Linked DNA regions of Homo sapiens: region 2 is linked to region 1. Evidence: fine-mapped expression QTL. A gene starts in region 1. The other region holds a variant in brackets. All regions are shown on one strand. Distances are between the middles of the regions. Region 1 holds the start of SLC46A3 (solute carrier family 46 member 3). Region 2 holds the start of LOC124903143 (a long non-coding RNA gene).

Region 1 (9,606 bases):
CAGATAGATTAGTGAGAAACATCTTCCTTTATTTACTAAATAAAAGAATTTAAAATAAGATAAAATTGAAAGAGGAGACTTACACTGTCTACAGATGGTAGCATACCGTGGCTGAGTGTGGTGGCTTACGCTTATAATCCCAGCACTGTGGGAGGCCGAGGTGGGAGCATCACTTGTGCCCAGGAATTTGAGACCAGCCTGGGCAACATAGCGAGACCCTGTCTCTAAAAATAAATTTAAAAAAACTAGGCCAGGCACGGTGGCTCACGCCTGTAATCCTAGCACTTTGGGGGGCCAAGGTGGGCGGATCACTTGAGGTCAGGAGTTTGAGACCAGCCTGGCCAACATGGCAAAACCCTGTCTCTACTAAAAATACAAAAATTAGCCAGGCGTGGTGGCGTACGCCTGTAGTCTCCGCTACTTGGGAGGCTGAGGCAGAAGAATTGCTTGAACCTGGGAGGCAGAGGTTGCAATGAGCTGAGATTGTGCCATTGCACTCCAGCCTGGGTGACACAGTGAGACTCCATCTCAAATAAATAAAAATAAAAAGTAAATAAAGGTGGTAGTATGTCATGACCTGAGGAGTAAGATAAACTCAACTTCCAAGGACCAAAATGACAATGACAGATGACATACACACACAGATTGGAAGATGTGTCAATCATTACACTAGTTACTTGATGGAAGAAATTTTGCATGATCTTAAAACATTTTTTGCTTGCCATTGCTCTGTATTTTCCAAAGTCAATATAAAAAGTGTGTGCCATTTGTATACTGGGAAATGCTAAGCTGATTTAAAAAACAGATGTAAACCGTTTTTAGTCATTGAATGAATCACTGAAGGCGATGGTGGTGCCTCCTGGGAAACAAAAATGTTCCTTTGTCCTAAGGAGCAAACAGAGAGTAGGCCACCACTCCAGCGTGGGTGGCAGGTGAGGGTAGGGGTGGTTTCTGGTTCCCAGAGGTCTAAGAGCACCAACTTTAAGGGAAGGGATCTAGAGTAGTAGGTTCTCTTGAATATTAATCCAATTAAGAAACAATAAATGAAAAAGTCAATTTGAAAATTCGGCAAAAATCTTTGACATGAGACCACTGCTGTGGGCAGTAGGGGGCTCTCAGCAGCTGGGCCAGGCTGGAGGTGGGCCAACACTTGCCCCCTGTATGGTTGCAGAAGCCACCAAGCTGGCTGGACCAAGGCCCGTCTTCCCTCAGTCCAAGAGGGCAAGAGCAGCAGACTTTCCCAGACATTCTTGTCCTCTCCTCCCTGGTCCCTCCCACTGCAACCAGGGGGCCTGCTCCTACAGGTCAGCCAAAAGAAAGCACAGAATCAAATACAGAAATTGATGAGCCTGTAAGAAGAAATTTGTTAAAGGATACAAAATTACAGCTAGACAGGAGGAATAAGTTCTGGTGTTCTGTAGCACCACAGGGTGACTACAGTTAACAGTAATATGTTATATAGTTTCAAATAGCAAGAAGGAGGGTATTGAATGTTCCCAACACAAAGAAATGAGAGATGTCTGAGTTGATGGATATGCTAATTAGCCTGATCTGATCACTATACATTGTATGTATCAAAACACCACTGTATACTCCATGAATATGTACAATGATTATCTGTCAATTAAAAAAATAAAATAAGACCGGGCACGGTGGCTCACGCCTGTAATCCCAACACTTTGAGAGGACCAGACAGGAGGCTCACTTGAGGCCACGAGTTCAAGGCCAGCCTGGGAAACAGAGGAAGACCCTGTCTCTACAAAAAAAAAAAAAAAAAATCAAAAATTAGCTGAGTGTAGTGGCACGTGCCTGTAGTCCCAGCTACTCAGGAGGCTGAGGTGAGAGGATCCCTTGAGCCTAGGAGTTCAAAGTTGCAGCGAGCTATTACCACGCCACTCCACTCCAGCGTGGGCAGCAGAATGAGACCCTGTCTCAAAAAGTACCATACATGCATAAATACATAATAAACAAAATAAAATAAAAAACACTTCAGGTGATTCCCATGTCCAGTCAAGGTTAAAAAACACTGTGTTAGAGGTTCCAGGATGGGATTCAAGTATGTATATTAACAAACGTCTCCAGAGCCGAAATCTGAAGAGCATCCCTGCTGTAGGACCCCAACTTTGAAACTAAGAGGATTTGTTAAACTCTATTCTGTTTATGTGTGTTTTTCTCAACCTAGAGAGACTCTGGGCTTCTCGGGTTCAGAGCCGTTTTGCTTATCCTTGTCACCACAGGATAATGTGTGATAAACATTTGTTTAATGCATGAATAAACACTTACAAAAAGAAACTGTGAGCCGATCGAAGCTTCTCACTCCCGGGAATGACCTAGGAGACATTCTTGAAGGGAGATAAGACCGCTGGGTGAGACTCAGGGCCCTTTTTTTTTATGACCTTACTCTACGCCAGAACCTTGATGTCTTCCAGGCTGCTCAGAAATAATCACTCCCAAGAAAACGTTTCCCATGGGAATGAGGAAATGAGTAAGATTAGGGATTGTGCCAAATTGCCTAACCTCACCCCAGCAAGGTTCCACCTGACACCTCGGGAAGTGCTAGAACCTTGCCTCTGGGGCGGTTTGCCATTTCCTCCTTCTCAGGCTCTTCTCCCAGTCACAGAGACTCACAGAGCCAGCAGGAGGTGACTCAATTCCTTTTAATTCATTTCATCTTTCACTGGGAAGGCAGCACCACTCCTTTACAATCACAAAATATCCCCCAGAAGAAGAGTTTAGAGTTTACAGGTGTGATTTGTTTTTGAGGCATTGTAGGAAAAAAAAAAAAATTTCCAAACCTGGATACTATCTCTTTGCATTTTGAAATGGTAGACTTTTGTCAAAAACTGCCCAAGGGACCAGGAGAATGGTGAAGTGCCTGCCTCCTGTTTTACACACAAAAAAACTGGGGAGATTGCTGGAGAGGGAGGAAGAAAGCCTCCTTAATATCTGGCTAAACATCTTTGGTGTCAACGGTGGGTACTCCCCACTCCAGATGTCCCCACACAGCTGCTCCTCAACACGTGAGAGCCAAGGCTGATTTGATACCACCACCAAATAATAAATGCTCCTCCACCCCACCCTGTGACAGACACTGGCTCACAATCTTCAGTGATGGGCCACTTTCTAGAGTCCCTGAAAGCTGGGACATGCAGAAACAGTAAAAGGATTGGGGAAGAATAGAGCAAGTGAGAGACAGAAACACCATGTTTCAGCCACCCCTGTCCACCAAGTAGCTCATTCCAGCCTGCCCTGCCCCAATTTTCAGACTTTTTTTTTTTTTTTTTTTTTTTTTAGGACAAAGCAAGGAGACAGCCACAGAAGAGATGACACTGTGGTGAAATTTTCCGAGAGAAAGGAGAAGAGCTAGTGTCACAGAGCAGGAGGGTGTTTTAAGAAGAAGAGGCAGATTTGAAAGGTGTCAGGAAACTTCAAATGAGGTGAGTTCCCAGTAAAGGCCATTAGGTTTGGGATTTAGGACTTTGATGGCCGCCCTAGAGAGACCAATGGATGATGAGTTCACGGTCCTCTTTAACTCAAAGCCCGGTATACATTCCCATTTTATTAAATACTATGGATATTGTAATTTCTTACCTCCTGGAATGCAAAAATTGGGCTGCTTTTGTTTTTTTCACACTCAGAAATATTGCTATCAGATGAAAAAGTGTAGTTGCCAGTTTCTTCCCATATTCTCCGATAAACATATTGCGTTGTCAGTGGACCGGTCAAAGTCATAGCAAATGCACTAAGGAAAATGGCAGGTTCTACAAATAAAATCTTCATATTGCCTGGGTAGGTAGCTGTATTCTATAAAAAGTGAAAACGGAGAAAGATCATCTGTCTCATCCCAGAGGCTAGATATTCAAAGATGGGTAAGTTTGAGCAATTTTGTGGAGTAAATGTTTAAACAAGCAAACTAGAGAACAGAAAAGGCAGTAAGCACTTTCTCAGAGAATAACTTTTACTTTGGAGTAGAGTACTCTGTAACAACCTGAGGCTGCCATGCTTTCCATTTTTATGAGTAGGACATTGTAGGACTCAAGCCGCCTTTGAGTCTTTGAAATCATAAACTGTCACCCATCTTGGTTAGCCAATGATCACAGTACAGTTCCCACACTGTATATTGCCAACTGATTTTTCGTAAGTTCAACAATGAGGTTCCTTTTGGGAAGCGACAGTTGCACAATTGTTATTGTTATTTTGCTGCGTATTAAAAACGGACAGGGAGGGGGCGTTTTAAAAAGCAGCTCCCAATCGAAAGGGCCTTATTTTTAACTCACCCCACGATTACAGTCTTCCTGCCAGGCTGGGTACAGGTCGGGCCGTGCCAGGGGCTGTCGCCTCGGATGCCCTGCGCTCGTGCGCGCCCGGGTTCAAGGGCAGCCTCTGGACTGGGGCAACAGAGGACGCGCCGGGGACAGTAACCTCGGACTACGCGGCCGGCGCTGGGGTGGGGAGAGTACTTTCCCGTCGAACTCGACCAAATTACGCTTGTCGGGGAGTCTCAAGCGTATTGTAAAGCAAACCTCGGCAAGCGCACTTCCGCGTCCCGAGTGACACCTGCAGGGTTCTCCGGCAGCCCTCGGCTTCCCCGCGGCCCTGCGGACCTCGGCCTCAGCGCGGCGCGGCGGGGCGCGGAGCAGCTGCTCCTTCTGCGCAGTGGACAATCGGCCAATCGGCGCCTCCGTCGGTCGGTCAGCGGCCCTGCCAGCGCTAGGCGATGACTCGGCCGCAGCCAGCTGAGCATCGCTGTCCGCCGAGGAGGCGGGGTCGGCTGCCGCGGCGCTGTCACTGTTCTACCCGGCTCTCCTGCGATTGGGCCCAGCGGTCGGTGCCCCAGCGGCGATTGGTCCACCCGGACGTCACTCTCCCCTGGAGAGTGGCTAGTGGATCGTGCACCCACCCTCGGAGGCCCGGAGTGGATCCCGCGCGACCGAGCAGCCACTCAGCACCGCTGTTGAGTGGTGGGCCGCGCCGCAGGCTCAACAGCTCTGGAGTTGCAAAGCATTTCTGAATCCGAATATCCTTTCTCATAGAAACACATAAAACAACAGTTGGAAAAGTAACATGTTTGGGCTGTAGCCCCCAGCAGGATCCCGGTCGGCCCGCAGAAGAGGGGAATGGGCGCAGGTGGAGGGCATAGGAAAGAGAGTGCTCAATGCAGAGTTAGCGGAGGGTTGGAATGTGGTCGCTGGCTTTTCCTGGGGAGGGGAGGGGGGACTTGGGCAAATCGTTAAATTTTCATGAACCTCCATGTCTTTATCTGCCACGTGGGGATGATAAGTCTTACAGGGTTGTCTAATTAAACACTCAGCATGTATACACAACACAGCCCCTGGACATAGGAGGAGTTGTCAGTGCTCTCCAACACACCCACCAGGAACAACTTGTAGTAAAAGAATTGAGCTACTACTTCTTGAAGCCAGGAGAAATGCATGCATGAGGAACCGTGGGGGCATCTCAGTAAGAAGGTGTTAGAATTTACTATGGGCTTGCGTTATGTGATTTTGGGAAGAGTTCAAGAAAGCAAGGCCTTACTCTGGATTGGTTGCTGTCAGGAAATGGCAGTAATTCTATGATTGGGTATCTTAATAAGTCTTATTTAGGAGTCAAGACTAGACAGAGGCTAAAGCCATGAATGATAAAGAAGCAACAGTCACACATATTTGTCATTTTTGTGGTTTAGACAGTGCCTAAATTTTGTCCGTGTTCAGACAAAATTATGACGTGGTCTTGTTTTTGTCTTGATCATGGTTACAGAATGCTCTTGTCTGACTTTGGTGTTCCGTGAAATTGTTTTCATTCGACAGAACACCATGGTCCAGAAAAGTTCTTAGCAACACCAAGGCCCAGCTGATAGTTCCAGCACCTGGATGTCAGAGCTGCTTTCTCTTCCTCAGCACTCCTTAAATGACAGTTGTGTCACTGAATGCAGAGTTAAACGTCTTAGGTTTGAGTCCTAACTGATACTTAGTAGCTGGTAACCTTGGACTTGCCACTTAATCTTACTTCCCAGCTTCTTCAAATCAGCATTTATGAAGCACTTGTTATGAGTTTCAAACAATGGAGCATGGATATTGGAAAGAAGATAAACAAACATGAGTAAGATACAGTTTGCAAGGAAGACATAATATTTTAAGTTGCAGTACTTTGTACTAAGTACTATATTATTCTAAACGGCACTTAGAAGATGTCCTTTTTTTTTTTTTTTTTTTTTGAGGTGGAGTCTCGCTCTGTCACCCAGGCCGGAGTGCAGTTGCAGGATCTTGGCTCACTGCAACCTCCGCCTCCCGGATTCAAGCAATGATCCTGCCTCAGCCTCCTGAGTAGCTGGGGTTACAAGTGTGCGCCACCATGGCCGGCTAATTTTTGTATTTTTAGTAGAGACAGGGTTTCACCATGTTGACCAGGATGATCTTGAACTCCTGACCTCAGGGGACCTGCCCACCTCAGCCTCCCAAAGTGCTGGGATTACAGGCATGCGCCACCGTGCCCTGCTGAAAATGTCCTTTCTTATGGGGCAAAAATAATTAATGTCCAATATACTTCCACGCTTTGCATTCCTACTCTTCCACACGAAGAAGAAAGCCAGGTCTTCTTAATGAGTTCTGCTGCTGATCGCTATGGTGACAACAGTCATTTTTTTTTTGTATTTTTTCAAAGAGAATTTTAATGTGAAAAATTAGCAGAGTTTCTGCCTTCACAATTAGAGTTTAACATGAGTCTTCCAGTGTTTTAAAAAGAACTGTAATATACGTAAAGCAAAATATTTTGGCATCATCTAGTGAAAACAGACAATGTGGTATTTTTTCAGCCATCTCATATAGTTAGGCCCTGAGTTATAATTTGAGATAAGTGATTCCTAAACAGAATGTGCTTTACAGAATGTGACCAATTATATTACTCCCAAGGACCTTGTTTCAGATTATATTAAAACCAGAGTTCACTGATCTCACATTTTAAAAAGAAAAAAAGTTTGTTAACTGTTTTAATCAACATAAGTAGTAACAAACATCCCTAATTGGATTCTAGAGAGGAAGCAGGGAGGGCCAGGCATGTGGCTCATGCCTGTAATCCCAGCACTTTGGGAGGCCGAGGCGGGTGGATCACGAGGTCAGGAGTTCAAGACCAGCCTAGCCAAAAGAGTGAAACCCTGTCTCTACTAAAAATACAAAAATTAGCCAGGCGTGGTGGCAGGTGCCTGTAATCCCAACTACTCAGGAGGCTGATGTAGACAATTGCTTAAACCCGGGAGGCGGAGGATGCAGTGAGCTGAGATCGCGCCACTGCACTCCAGCCTGGGCGACAGAGCGAGACTCCATCTCAAAAAAAAAAAAAAAAAAAAAGAGAGAGAGAGGAAGCAGGGAACAACTGAGCCAAAACAAAATTATCCCCTAAGGACTTGACTTTGGACTTCCACATAAATGTGACCTTGAAGACCTAGATACATATTTATCAGGTAAATATGTAATTATTTCGTAATTAGATCAAGATACATGAGCAGTTTTTGGCATTAATAATTACATTATTTTTAGGAAATCTTATCAAATATGGTCCCGGATCTCTTAATTTCCTATATTCAGTGATTTTAGTTAAAATTCCAAAGGATATTTTTTTTCTACAACATCTCCATTTCTGAGTATCATCATACCAAAAGAATTAGTATTCTCTCATTCAAGGCTTTAGATGTTCAATTATTCCCTGCCCTTCCATCCTCACCCACACAATAATTGCCCAGATAAATAATAACCTGAGGTTTCCAAGTATCTCACCGGGATTTTTATTCTTTATACCTTGCAGGACTAGTCCAAGATTTGAATACCCTGAACTTATTTGGCAAGAGCTAAGAGTACTCTTAAAATTACTACCTGGAAATTATATTATTTAGAATCTGCCAATTACCTAGATCCTCCTGAACAATTGTTTTACTAATGAACTTCCTGAAAGCACATGTATAAGTATCATAGCTATTAGAAAATGTTTCAAATGCTATTATATTTGATAGAACCATTCAGTTAACAAAATACTAAATCATAAACTGGCTTTTAGAATTACACACTCAAAAAAAACAGTACACTACAAGAGTTGTTTTGTACACTTCATTCTCTTCGAATGCCTTTGTGGCTTACAGTGATGATCACATATATTGGTTCCTTGCAACCTTTTTCATTTTGATCTTCGTTTGTAATGGATAAGTGGGTTTTCAGGGGTGTGAATCATAGTTGTATAATTCACGATGGGAAAATATCCATCAATGAGATCAAATTCATATAAACGAAGCATAGTGGACCAAATTGTCTTAATTTGAACATAGGCAAAATTTTCCCCAATTCAACGATGACACCCAGCTCCAAATGGCACATAGGCAAACTTTTCCCCTGATGCTGGGTTATCCTGTAAGTAGCAATCAGGATTAAAGTCCAGGCGTTCTACCCATGAGTCTTTAGGTCTTTGATTGACAGTGGGAGAAACACACACCTGATGTCCTGGAGGAATGGTATACCCTACCACAGTCTGAGGAGTTCTGGCCATTCTCATCATGATCATTATAGGAGGTCTAAGTCTTAATGTTTCTTTTATACAGCGATCAAGTAAATTTAGATCCTTGAGTTGGTCATAAGTTAAAGGAGGCAGATTCTCTCCACAGACTGTTTTCTGTTCTAAATAACATTTTTCTTGAAGTGTTTTGTCTCTGGCCAAAAAGAAGTCCATCCAAGCACTAGTAGTTGAGGATGAATGCTGCCCTGCCAAGAGTAATCCAATAAGCATCCCTGCTACTTCATCATCAGTCAAAGGACGCCCATCCTTGTATGTAGCATCTAGTAAAGTTTGGAGAATGTCATCAATTTTTTCTTGAGACTGTCTGCGTTTCTGGATTGCCTTATAGAAAATATCCTTGATTTCCCAATGAGCTCTGTCCCTGCATCTGAAACTAGGCAAAGGCAGCCAACCTGGTAAGAGCCAGGCTGCATGGCTGAAACCTCCATCCAAATCTGCATACAGCTGTGCTACCTTTTCATTGAGTTGACTTCTGATTTCCTTTCCATGCAAACAGTGGCTAGCTGTTAAAATTATGAGCTCAGAAAGAGCTTCAAACACATTTTTTTCTCCACTTTCTCCCCAACTCTGAAAGTACTCCTTTGTTTCTTTTTCTTTTTTTTTTTTATTATACTTTAAGTTTTAGGGTACATGTGCACATTGTGCAGGTTAGTTACATATGTATACATGTGCCATGCTGGTGCGCTGCACCCACTAACTTGTCATCTAGCATTAGGTATATCTCCCAATGAAACATGCTGTTTAAAGTGGGCTTTGTTAAGGCCACTTTTTAACATTTTCTTCTGCTCCAAGAAAACTGGATTAGGCACATCGTATGCAACTCCCTTCCCAAACACAGGTGTCGTCAGGTGACTGTAGACATCTTCTGCATTCAGGTCTTCATTTTTACTATTAAAAAGCAGCGCAGCAGCATCACTCCCCAGAAGGTAAGTAAATGTCTTGCCTACCATGGTAAAACTAAATACAGGTCCATACTTCTCATATGCATTTCTAGAAATTCAACTGGACTTTTCCCAAATGCTATGGCATGCCCAGGGAATGGAACTGGGG
Region 2 (9,606 bases), 28 kb before region 1:
AGAACTTCTAGAACTATGTTGAGGAGAAATGGTGAAAGTGGGCATCCTTGTCTTGTTCCAGTTCTCAGGAGGAATATTTTCAACTTTTCCCCAATCAGAATGATGTTGGCTAGTTGGCTATGGGTTTCCCATATATGGCTTTTATTACTTTGAGGTAAGTCCCTTCTATGCCTATTTTGTTAAGGGTTTTTATCCTAAAGCGATGCTGGATTTTATCAAATGCTTTTTCTGCATCTATTGAGATGATGATATGATTTTTATTTTTAATTCTGTTTATGTGATGTATCACATTTATTGACTTGTGTATGTTAAACCATCCCTGGAGTGAAACTCACTTGATTATGATGTATTATCTTTTGGATGTGCTGTTGGATTCAGTTAGCTAGTATTTGTTTGAGGATTTTTGCATCTATGTTCATCAGGGATATTGGTTTGTAGATTTCTTTTTTTTTAAATGTCCTTCCCTGCTATTGGTATTAGGGTGATATTGGTGTCATAGAATGATTTACGAAGGATTCCCTCTTTCTCATCATTTGGAATAGTTTCAGTAGGATTGGTACCAATTTGAATGTCTAGTAGAATTCAGCTATGAATCCATCTGGTCGTGTACTTTTTTCATTGGCAATTTTTAAATAAATGATTCCATTTTGCTGCTTGTTATTGGTATGTTCAGGGCTTCTGTTTCTTTCTGATTTGATCTAAGAGGGTTATATGTTTCCAGGAATTTATCCATTTCCTCTAGATTTTCTAGGTTGTGCACATAAAGGTGTTCATAGTAGCCTTGAATGATCATTTGTATTTCAGAGGTCAGTTGTAATATTTCCAGTTTCATTTCTAATTGAGCTTATTTGGACCTCTCTCTTCTTAATCTCACTAATGATCTATCGATTTTGTGTATCTTTTTAAAGAATCAGCTTTTTTGTTTCATTTATCTTTTGTATTTTTTTTGTTTCAATTTCATTTAGTTCCGCCCTGACCTTTGTTATTTCTTTTCTTCTGTTGGCTTTGGGTTTAGTTTGTTCTTGTTTCCCTAGTTCCTTGAGGTGTGACATTAGATTGTCGGTTTGTTCTCTTTCAGACTTTTTGATGTAGGTATTTAATGCTATGAGTTTTCCTCTTAGCACTGCTTTTGCTATATCCCAGAGGTTTTGATAACTTGTGTCACTATTATCATTTATTTCAAAGAATTTTTAAATTTTCAACTTGATTTCATTGTTAACCAAAAAATCATTCAAGAGCAGATTATTTAATTTCCATGTATCTATATAGTTTTGGAGTTGATTTCCAGTTTTATTCCACTCTGATCTGAGAAGATACTTGATACAATTTCAATTTTCTTAAATTTATTGAGACTTGTTTTGTGGCCTGTTATATGGTCTATCTTGGAGGATGTTCCGTGTGCCTATGAGAAGAATGTATACTCTATAGTTGTTGAGAATGTTCTGTAAATAGCTGTTAAGTCCATTTGTTCTAGGGTATAGTTTAAGTCTGTTGTTTCTTTGTTGGCTTTGTCTTGATGATCTCTCTAGTGCTTTCGGTGGAGTATTAAGTCCCCCACTATTATTGTGTTGCTGTCTGTCTCATCTCTTAGGTCTAGTAGGAATTGTTTTATAAATCTGGGAGTTCCAGTGTTAGGTAAATATAAATCCAGGATTGTAGTGTCTTCTTGTTGGACTGATTCTTTTATCATTACATAATGTCCTTATTTGTCTTTTTTTACTGTGGTTGCTTTAAAGTCTGTTTTGTCTTATATAAGAGTAGCTACTCCTGCTCACTTTTGATTGCCATTTGTGTGGAATATCTTTTTCCACACCTTTACCTTGAGTTTATGAGTCCTTATCTGTCAGGTGAGGCTCTAGAAGACATCAAATATTTGGTTGGTGTATTTTTTTAAATTAATTCTCTGATTTTGTATCTTTTTTTTCTAATTCTTTTTTTTGAATTATAAGACTTTAAGTTCTAGGGTACATGTGCACAATGTGCAGGTTTGTTACATAGGTATACATGTGCCATGTTGGTCATTTACATTAGGTATTTACATTTACATTAAGTATCAACTCGTCATTTACATTAGGTATTTCTCCTAATGCTATCCCTCCCCCAGCCCTCCCACCCCCCAGCAGGCCCCAGCATGTAATGTTCCCCTCCCTGTGTCCACGTGTTCTCATTGTTCAACTCTCACTTATGAGTGAGAACATGCAGTGTTTGGTTTTCTGTTCTTGTGTAACTTTGCTGAAAATGATGGTTTCCAGTTTCATCTATGTCCCTGCAAAGAACATGAACTCATCCTTTTTTATGGCTGCATAATATTCCATGGTGTATATGTGCCACATTTTCTTTATCCAGTCTATCACTGATGGGCATTTGGGTTGGTTCCAAGACTTTGCTATTGTGAACAGTGCTGCAGTAAACATACGTGTGCATGTGTCTTTATAGTAGAATGATTTATAATCCTTTGGGTATATACCAAGTAATGGGATTGCTAGGTCAAATGGTATTTCTAGTTCTAGATCCTTGAGGAATCACCACACTATCTTCCACAATGGTTGAACTAATTTACACTCCCAACAGTGTAAAATTGTTCCTATTACTCCACATCCTCCCCAGCACCTGTTGTTTCCTGACTTTTTAATGATCACCATTCTAACTGGCGTGAGATGCTATCTCATTGTGGTATTGATTTGCATTCTCTAATGACCAGTGATAATGAGCATTTTTTCATAAGTTTGCTGGCTGCATAAACATCTTCTTTTAAGAAGTGTCTGTTCATATCCGTTGCCCATTTTTTGATGAGGCTGTTTGTTTTTGTCTTATAAATTTGTTTAAATTCTTTGTAGATTCTGGATATTAGCCCTTTGTCAGATGGATAGATTGTAAAAATTTTCTCCCAATCTGTAGGTTGCCTGTTCACTCTGAAGATAGTTTCTTTTGCTGTGCAGAAGCTCTTTAGTTTAATTAGATCCCATTTGTCTATTTTGGCTTTTGTTGCCATTGCTTTTGGTGTTTAGTCATGAAGTCTTTGCCCATGCCTATGTCCTGAATGGTATTGCTTAGGTTTTCTTCTAGAGTTTTTATGGTTTTAGGTCTTACATTTAAGTCATTAATTCATCTTGAGTTAATTATTGTATAAGGTATAAGGAAGGGATCCAGTTTCAGCTTTCTGCATATGGCTACCCAGTTTTCCCAGCACCATTTATTAAATAGGGAGTCCTTTCCCCATTGCTTGTTTTTGTCAGGTTTGTCAAATATCAGATGGTTGTAGATGTGTGGTGTTATTTCTGTGGCATCTGTTCTGTTCCATTGGTCTATATATCTGTTTTGCTACCAGTACCATGCTGTTTTGGTTGCTGTAGCCTTGTAGTATAGTTTGAAGTCAGGTAGCATGATGCCTCCAGCTTTGTTCTTCTTGCTTAGGATTGTCTTGGCTATGTGGGCTCTTTTTTGGTTCCATTTGAAATTTCAAGTAGTTTTTTCCAGTTCTGTGAAGAAGGTCAGTGGTAGCTTGATGGGGATAGCATTGAATCTATAAATTACTTTGGGCACTATGGCCATTTTCACAATATTGATTCTTCCTATCCGTGAGCATGGAATGTTCTTCCATTTGTTTGTGTCCTCTTTTATTTCGTTGAGCAGTGGTTTGTAGTTCTCCTTGAAGAGATCCTTCACATCCCTTATAAGTTGGATTCCTAGGTATTTTATTTTCTTTGAAGCAGTTGTGAATGGGAGTTCACTCATGATTTGACTCTCTGTCTGTTATTGGTGTATAGGAATGCTTGTGATTTTTGCACATTGATTTTGTATCCCGAGACTTTGCTGAAGTTGCTTATCAGCTTAAGGAGATTCTGGGCTGAGACAATGGGGTTTTCTAAATATACAATCATGTCATCTGCAAACAGAGACAATTTGACTTCCTCTTTTCCTAATTGAATACCCTTTATTTCTTGCTCTTGCCTGATTGCCCTGGCCAGAATTTCCAATACTATGTTGAACAGGAGAGAGAGGGCCTCCTTGTCTTGTGCTGGTTTTCAAAGGGAATGCTTCCAGTTTTTGCCCATTCAGTATGATATTGACTGTGGGTTTGTCATAAATAGCTCTTATTATTTTGAGATACGTTCCATCAATACCTAGTTTATTGAGAGTTTTTAGTATGAAGAGGTGTTGAATTTTGTCGAAGGCCTTTTCTGCATCTATTGAGATAATCATGTGGTTTTGTTGTTGGTTCTGTTCATGTGATGGATTACATTTATTGATTGGTGTATGTTGAACCAGCGTTGCATCCCAGGGATGAAGCCGACTTGATTGTGGTGAATAAGCTTTTTGATGTGCTGCTGGATTTGGTTTGCCAGTATTTTACTGAGGATTTTTGCATTGATGTTTATCAGGGATATTAGCCTAAAATTTTCTTTTTTTGGTGTGTCTCTGCCAGGTTTTGGTATCAGAATGATGCTGGCCTCATAAAATGAGTTAGGGAGGATTCTCTCTTTTTCTATTGATTGGAATAGTTTCAGAAGGAATGATACCAGCTCCTCTTTGTCACTTTGGTAGAGTTCAGCTGTGAATCCATCTGGTCCTGGATTTTTTTTGGTTGGTAAGCTATTAATTATTGCCTCAATTTCAGAACCTGTTATTGGTCTATTCAGAGATTCAACTTCTTCCTGGTTTAGTCTTGGGATGATATATGTGTCCAGAAATTTATCCATTTCTTCTAGATTTTCTAGTTTATTTGCATAGAGGTGTTTATAGTATTCTCTGATGATAGTTTGTTATTTCTGTGGGATCAGTGGTGATATACCCTTTATTATTTTTTATTGTGTCTATTTGATTCTTCTCTCTTTTCTTCTTTATTAGTCTGGCTGGTGGTCTATCTACTTTGTTGATCTT[G/C]TTAAAAAAAAACAGCTTCTGGATTCATTGATTTTTTGAAGGTTTTTTTTGTGTCTCTATCTCCTTCAATTCCGCTCTGATGTTAGTTATTGCTTGTCTTCTGCTAGCTTTTGAGTTTGTTTGCTCTTGCTTCTCTAGTTCTTTTAATTGTGATGTTAGGTTGTCGATTTTAGATCTTTCCTGCTTTCTCTTATGGGCATTTAGTGCTAAAAATTTCTCTCTCCACCCTGCTTTAAATGTGTCTCAGAGATTCTGGTAAGCTGTGTCATTGTTCTCACTGGTTTCAAATAACATCTTTATTTCTGCCTTCATTTCGTTATTTACCCAGTAGTCATTCAGGAGCAGGTTGTTCAGTTTCCGCGTAGTTGTGTGGTTTTGAGTGAGTTTCTTAATCTTGAGTTCTAATTTGATTGCACTCTGGTCTGAGAGACAGTTTGTTGTGATTTCTGTTTTTTCACATTTGCTGAGGAGTGTTTTACTTCCAATTATGTGGTCAATTTTAGAACAAGTGCAATGTGGTGCTGAGAAGAATGTATATTCTGTTAATCTGGAGTAGAGAGTTCTGTAGATGTCTATTAGGTCCACTTGGTCCAGAGCTGAGTTCAAGTCCTGGATATCCTTGGTAATCTTCTGTCTCATCAATCTAATATTGACAGTGGGGTGTTAAAGTCTCCCACTATTATTGTGTAGGAGTCTAAGTCTCTTTGTAGGTCTCTAAGAACTTGCTTTATGAATCTGGGAGCATATATATTTAGAATAGTTAGCTCTTCCTGTTGCGTTGATCACTTTACCATTGTATAATGCCCTTCTTTGTCTCTTTTGCTCTTTGTTGGTTTAAAGTCTGTTTTATCAGAGGCTAGGATTTCAACCCCTGCTTTTTTTTGCTTTCCATTTGCTTGGTAGATCTTCCTCCATCCCTTTATTTTGAGCCTATGTGTGTTTTAGCATGTGAGATGGTCTCCTGAATACAGCACACCAATGGGTCTTGACTCTATCCAATTTGACAGTCTGTGTCTTTTAGTTGGGGCATTTAACCCATTGACATTTAAAGTTAATATTTTTATATGTGAATTTGATCCTATCATTATGATGCTAGCTATTTATTTTGCCTGTTAGTTGATGCAGTTTCTTCATAGCATCGATGGTCTTTACAATTTGGCATGTTTTTGCTGTGGCTGGTACCAGTTGTTCCTTTCCATGTTTAGGACTTCCCTCAGGAGCTCTTGAAATGCAGGCCTGGTTAATGACAAAATCTCTCAGCATTTGCTTTTCTGTAAAGGCTTTTATTTCTCCTTCACTTATGAAGCTTAGTTTGGCTGGATATGAAATTCTGGGTTGAAAATTCCTTTCCCTAAGAATGTTGAATATTGGCCCCCACTCTCTGGCTTGGAGGGTATCTTCCAAGAGATCCACTGTTAGTCTGATGGGCTTCACTTTGCGGGAAACCCAGCCTTTGTTTCTGGCTGCCCTTAACATTTTTTCCTTCATTTCAACCTTGGTGAATCTGATCATTTTGTGTATTGGGGTTGCTATTCTTGAGGAATATCTTTGTTGTGTTCTCTGTATTTCCTGAATTTGAATGTTGGCCTGCCTTGCTAGGTTGGGGAAGTTCTCCTGGATAATATCCTGAAGAGTGTTTTCCAGCTTGGTTCCATTCTCCCTGTCACTTTCAGGTACAGCCATCAAACGTAGATTTGATCTTTTCACATAGTCCCATATTTCTCGGAGCCTTTGTTTCTTTTCACTCCTTTTTCTCTAATCTTGTCTTCTCGCTTTATTTCATTAAGTTGATCTTCAATCACTGGTATCCTTTCTTCTGCATGATTGATTCGGCTACTGAAGCTTGTGTATGCTTTACAAAGTTCTCATGCTGTGTTTTTGAGCTCCATCAGGTCATTTATGTTCTCTACATTGGTTATGTAGCAATTCATCTAACCTTTTTTCAAGGTTCTTAGCTTCCTTGTGTTGGGTTAGAACATGCTCCTTTAGCTTGGAGGAGTTTGTAATTACCCACCTTCTGAAGCCTACTTCTGTCAATTCGTCAAACTTATTCTCCGTCCAGTTTTTTTCTCTTGCTGGCGAGAAGTTATGATTCTTTGGAGGAGAAGAGGTGTTCTGGTTTTTGGAATGTTCAGTCTTTCTGCACTGGTTTCTCCCCATCTTTGTGGTTTTATCTACCTTTGGTCTTTGATGTTGGTGACCTACAGATGGGGTTTTGGTGTGGATGTCCTTTTTGTTGATGTTGATGCTATTCTTTTCATCTGTTAGTTTCCCTTCTAACAGGTCCCTCAGCTGCAGGTCTGTTGGAGTTTGCTGGAGGTCCACTCCAGACCCTGTTTGCCGGGATATCACCAGTGGAGTCTGCAGAACAGCAAATACTGCTGCCTTATCCTTCCTCTGGAAGCTTTGTCCCAGAGGGGCACCTGCCAGATGCCAGCCAGAGCTCTCCTCTATGAGGTGTCTGTTGGACCTTACTGGGAGGTGTCTCCCAGTCAGGCTACACGGGGGTCATGGACCCACTTGAGGTGGCAGTCTGTCTGTTATCAGAGCTCAAACACTGTGCTGGGAGAACCACTGCTCTCTTCAGAGCTGTCAGGCAGGGATGTTTAAGTCTGCTGAAGCTGTGCCCACAGCTGCCCCTTCCCCCAGGTGCTCTGTCCCAGGGAGATGGGGGTTTTATCTATAGGTCCCTGACTGGGGCTGCTGTCTTTTGTTCAGAGATGCCCTGCCCACAGAGGTGGAATCTAGAGAGGCAGTTGGCCTTGCTGAGCTGCGGTGGGCTCCTCCCAGTTCGAAATTCCTGGCGGCTTTGTTTACACTGTGAGCATAATACTGCTTGCTCAAGCCTCAGCAATGGTGGACACCCCACCCCCCAGCCAAGCTCCAGCGTCTCAGGTCGATCTCAGACTTCTGTGCTAGCAGCGAGAATTTCAAGCCAATGGATCTTAGCTTGCTGGGCTCTGTGGGTGTGGGACCCACACAGCCAGGCACTGGAAGGAATCTCCTGGTCTGCCGTTTGCAAAGAATGTGGGAAAAGTACAGTATCTGGGCAGGAGTGCACTGTTCCTCCCCGTACAGTCTCTCACAGCTTACCTTGGCTAGGAAAAGGAAATCCCCCGACCCCTTGCACTTCCCAGGTAAGGCGACACCCCACCCTGCTTTGGCTCACCCTCCGTGGGCTGTTCCCACTGTCCAACCAGTCCCAGTGAGATGAACCAGGTATCTCACTTGGAAATGCAGAAATCACCTATCTTCTCTGTTGATCCCACTGGGAGCTGCAGACTGGAGCTGTTCCTATTCAGCCATCTGGCTGGAAATCCCACTGTGTATCTTTTAAGTGGAGCATTTAGGCCATTTACATTCAATGTTAATATTGGGATGTGAGGTACTATTCTATTTATCATATTAGTTGTTACATAGATACTTTGTTTTTTTCACTGTGTTACTGCTTTATAGACCCTGTGATGCTTTCAGCAGGTTCCATTTTGGTACATACCAAGTTTTGTTTCAAGATTTAGAACTCCTTTAGCATTCCTTGTAGTGCTGATTTGGTAGTGGCAAATTCCCTCAGCATTTGCTTGTCAGGAAAAGACTATTTCTCCTTCATTTATGAAGCTTAGTTTTGCTGGATACAGAAATTAAAAAAAAGAAATTCAGGTGTGTGATGGAATAGACTTTTTTTTTTTGACTCAACACCACTTAATGAAGGAATAGATTTTGAATGTGCTTTTAGAATATTGTATAATGTCCTTATGTAAGATAATTCTAGACTCAAATATTTCAAGGAGCTGGATGTGGCTTAATACTTTGTAAAATTGGATTCACCACAGGCACACACTAAGTGAAATGGAGATGCCAGAAGTCCTTGACATAGAGTAGAGCATCAGTTCTCAAGCTTTTGTGTGCACCAGAATCATAGGAGGGCTTTTAAAAACACAGATTGCTGAACCCCACTCCTAGAGTTTGTGATTCAGAAAGGTTGAGTTGAAGCCTGAGAATTTGCATTTCTAACAAGTTTGTAGGTTATGGTAATGCTACTAAACTAAGGACCATATTTTGAAAGTCACTAGTATAGAAGAAAGAAATCAAATAACTTTGAGGGACAAGAATGTTGGAGTGCTTTGCCTACGTAAATCCCCTCTTCATTTGCTACCTGTCTTTCCCAAAAGGGTCAATATAATCTTTTGAACTTTATTGAGGTATAATTTACATAACACAGTATATTCATATATTTTGACAAATGTATATAACTGTATAACCAACATAATCAAAATAAAAAATATGTCCATCATCCCAGAACGTTCTCTCCTGTCACTTTTTAATCCCTGTGTCTCCTGCCCCAAGCCCCAGGCAACCCCTCATCTCATTTCTCACACTGTAGATTAGTTTGTGGGTTTTTTTTTTTTTCAAGAATTTCATGTACATAGAATCATACAGTATGTAATTGTTTTGTATTTGGTTTCTTTTGCTTTGTGTAATGTTTTTAAAACTCTTCATGTTGTTGAATATGTGAGTAATTTGTTTTTTTTTATTGCTCAGTAGTATTCACTGTATGGATATTTATATTTTGTTTATTCATCTATTGAAGGTTATTTGGGTCATTTCCAGTTTGGGGCTATTATAGATGAAGCATCTATAAACATTTATAGACAAGCCTTTGTATGGACATGTGTTTTCATTTGTCTTGGGGCAAATGACATAGGAGAGAGCTACTGCATCATATGT

The links. PIP is the estimated chance that this variant, and not a neighbour inherited with it, causes the effect. A credible set is the group of variants that fine-mapping cannot tell apart.
Region 2: its variant is the best candidate, but not a certain one, in a credible set for the expression of SLC46A3 in whole blood (INTERVAL, PIP 0.57).

What each region holds. Positions count from the first base shown.
Region 1 is chr13:28,714,219-28,723,824 of GRCh38, forward strand. SLC46A3 (solute carrier family 46 member 3) reads right to left here and starts at 4,752. Exons shown (of 6, transcript NM_181785.4): 1 at 4,278-4,752; 2 at 3,592-3,804. The coding sequence starts at 3,780. It also overlaps the pseudogene CYP51A1P2.
Region 2 is chr13:28,686,147-28,695,752 of GRCh38, forward strand. LOC124903143 (a long non-coding RNA gene) reads left to right here and starts at 7,610. Exons shown (of 3, transcript XR_007063738.1): 1 at 7,610-8,018. RefSeq lists an enhancer at 7,329-7,861. The variant G/C (reference allele first, on the strand shown) is at 4,882.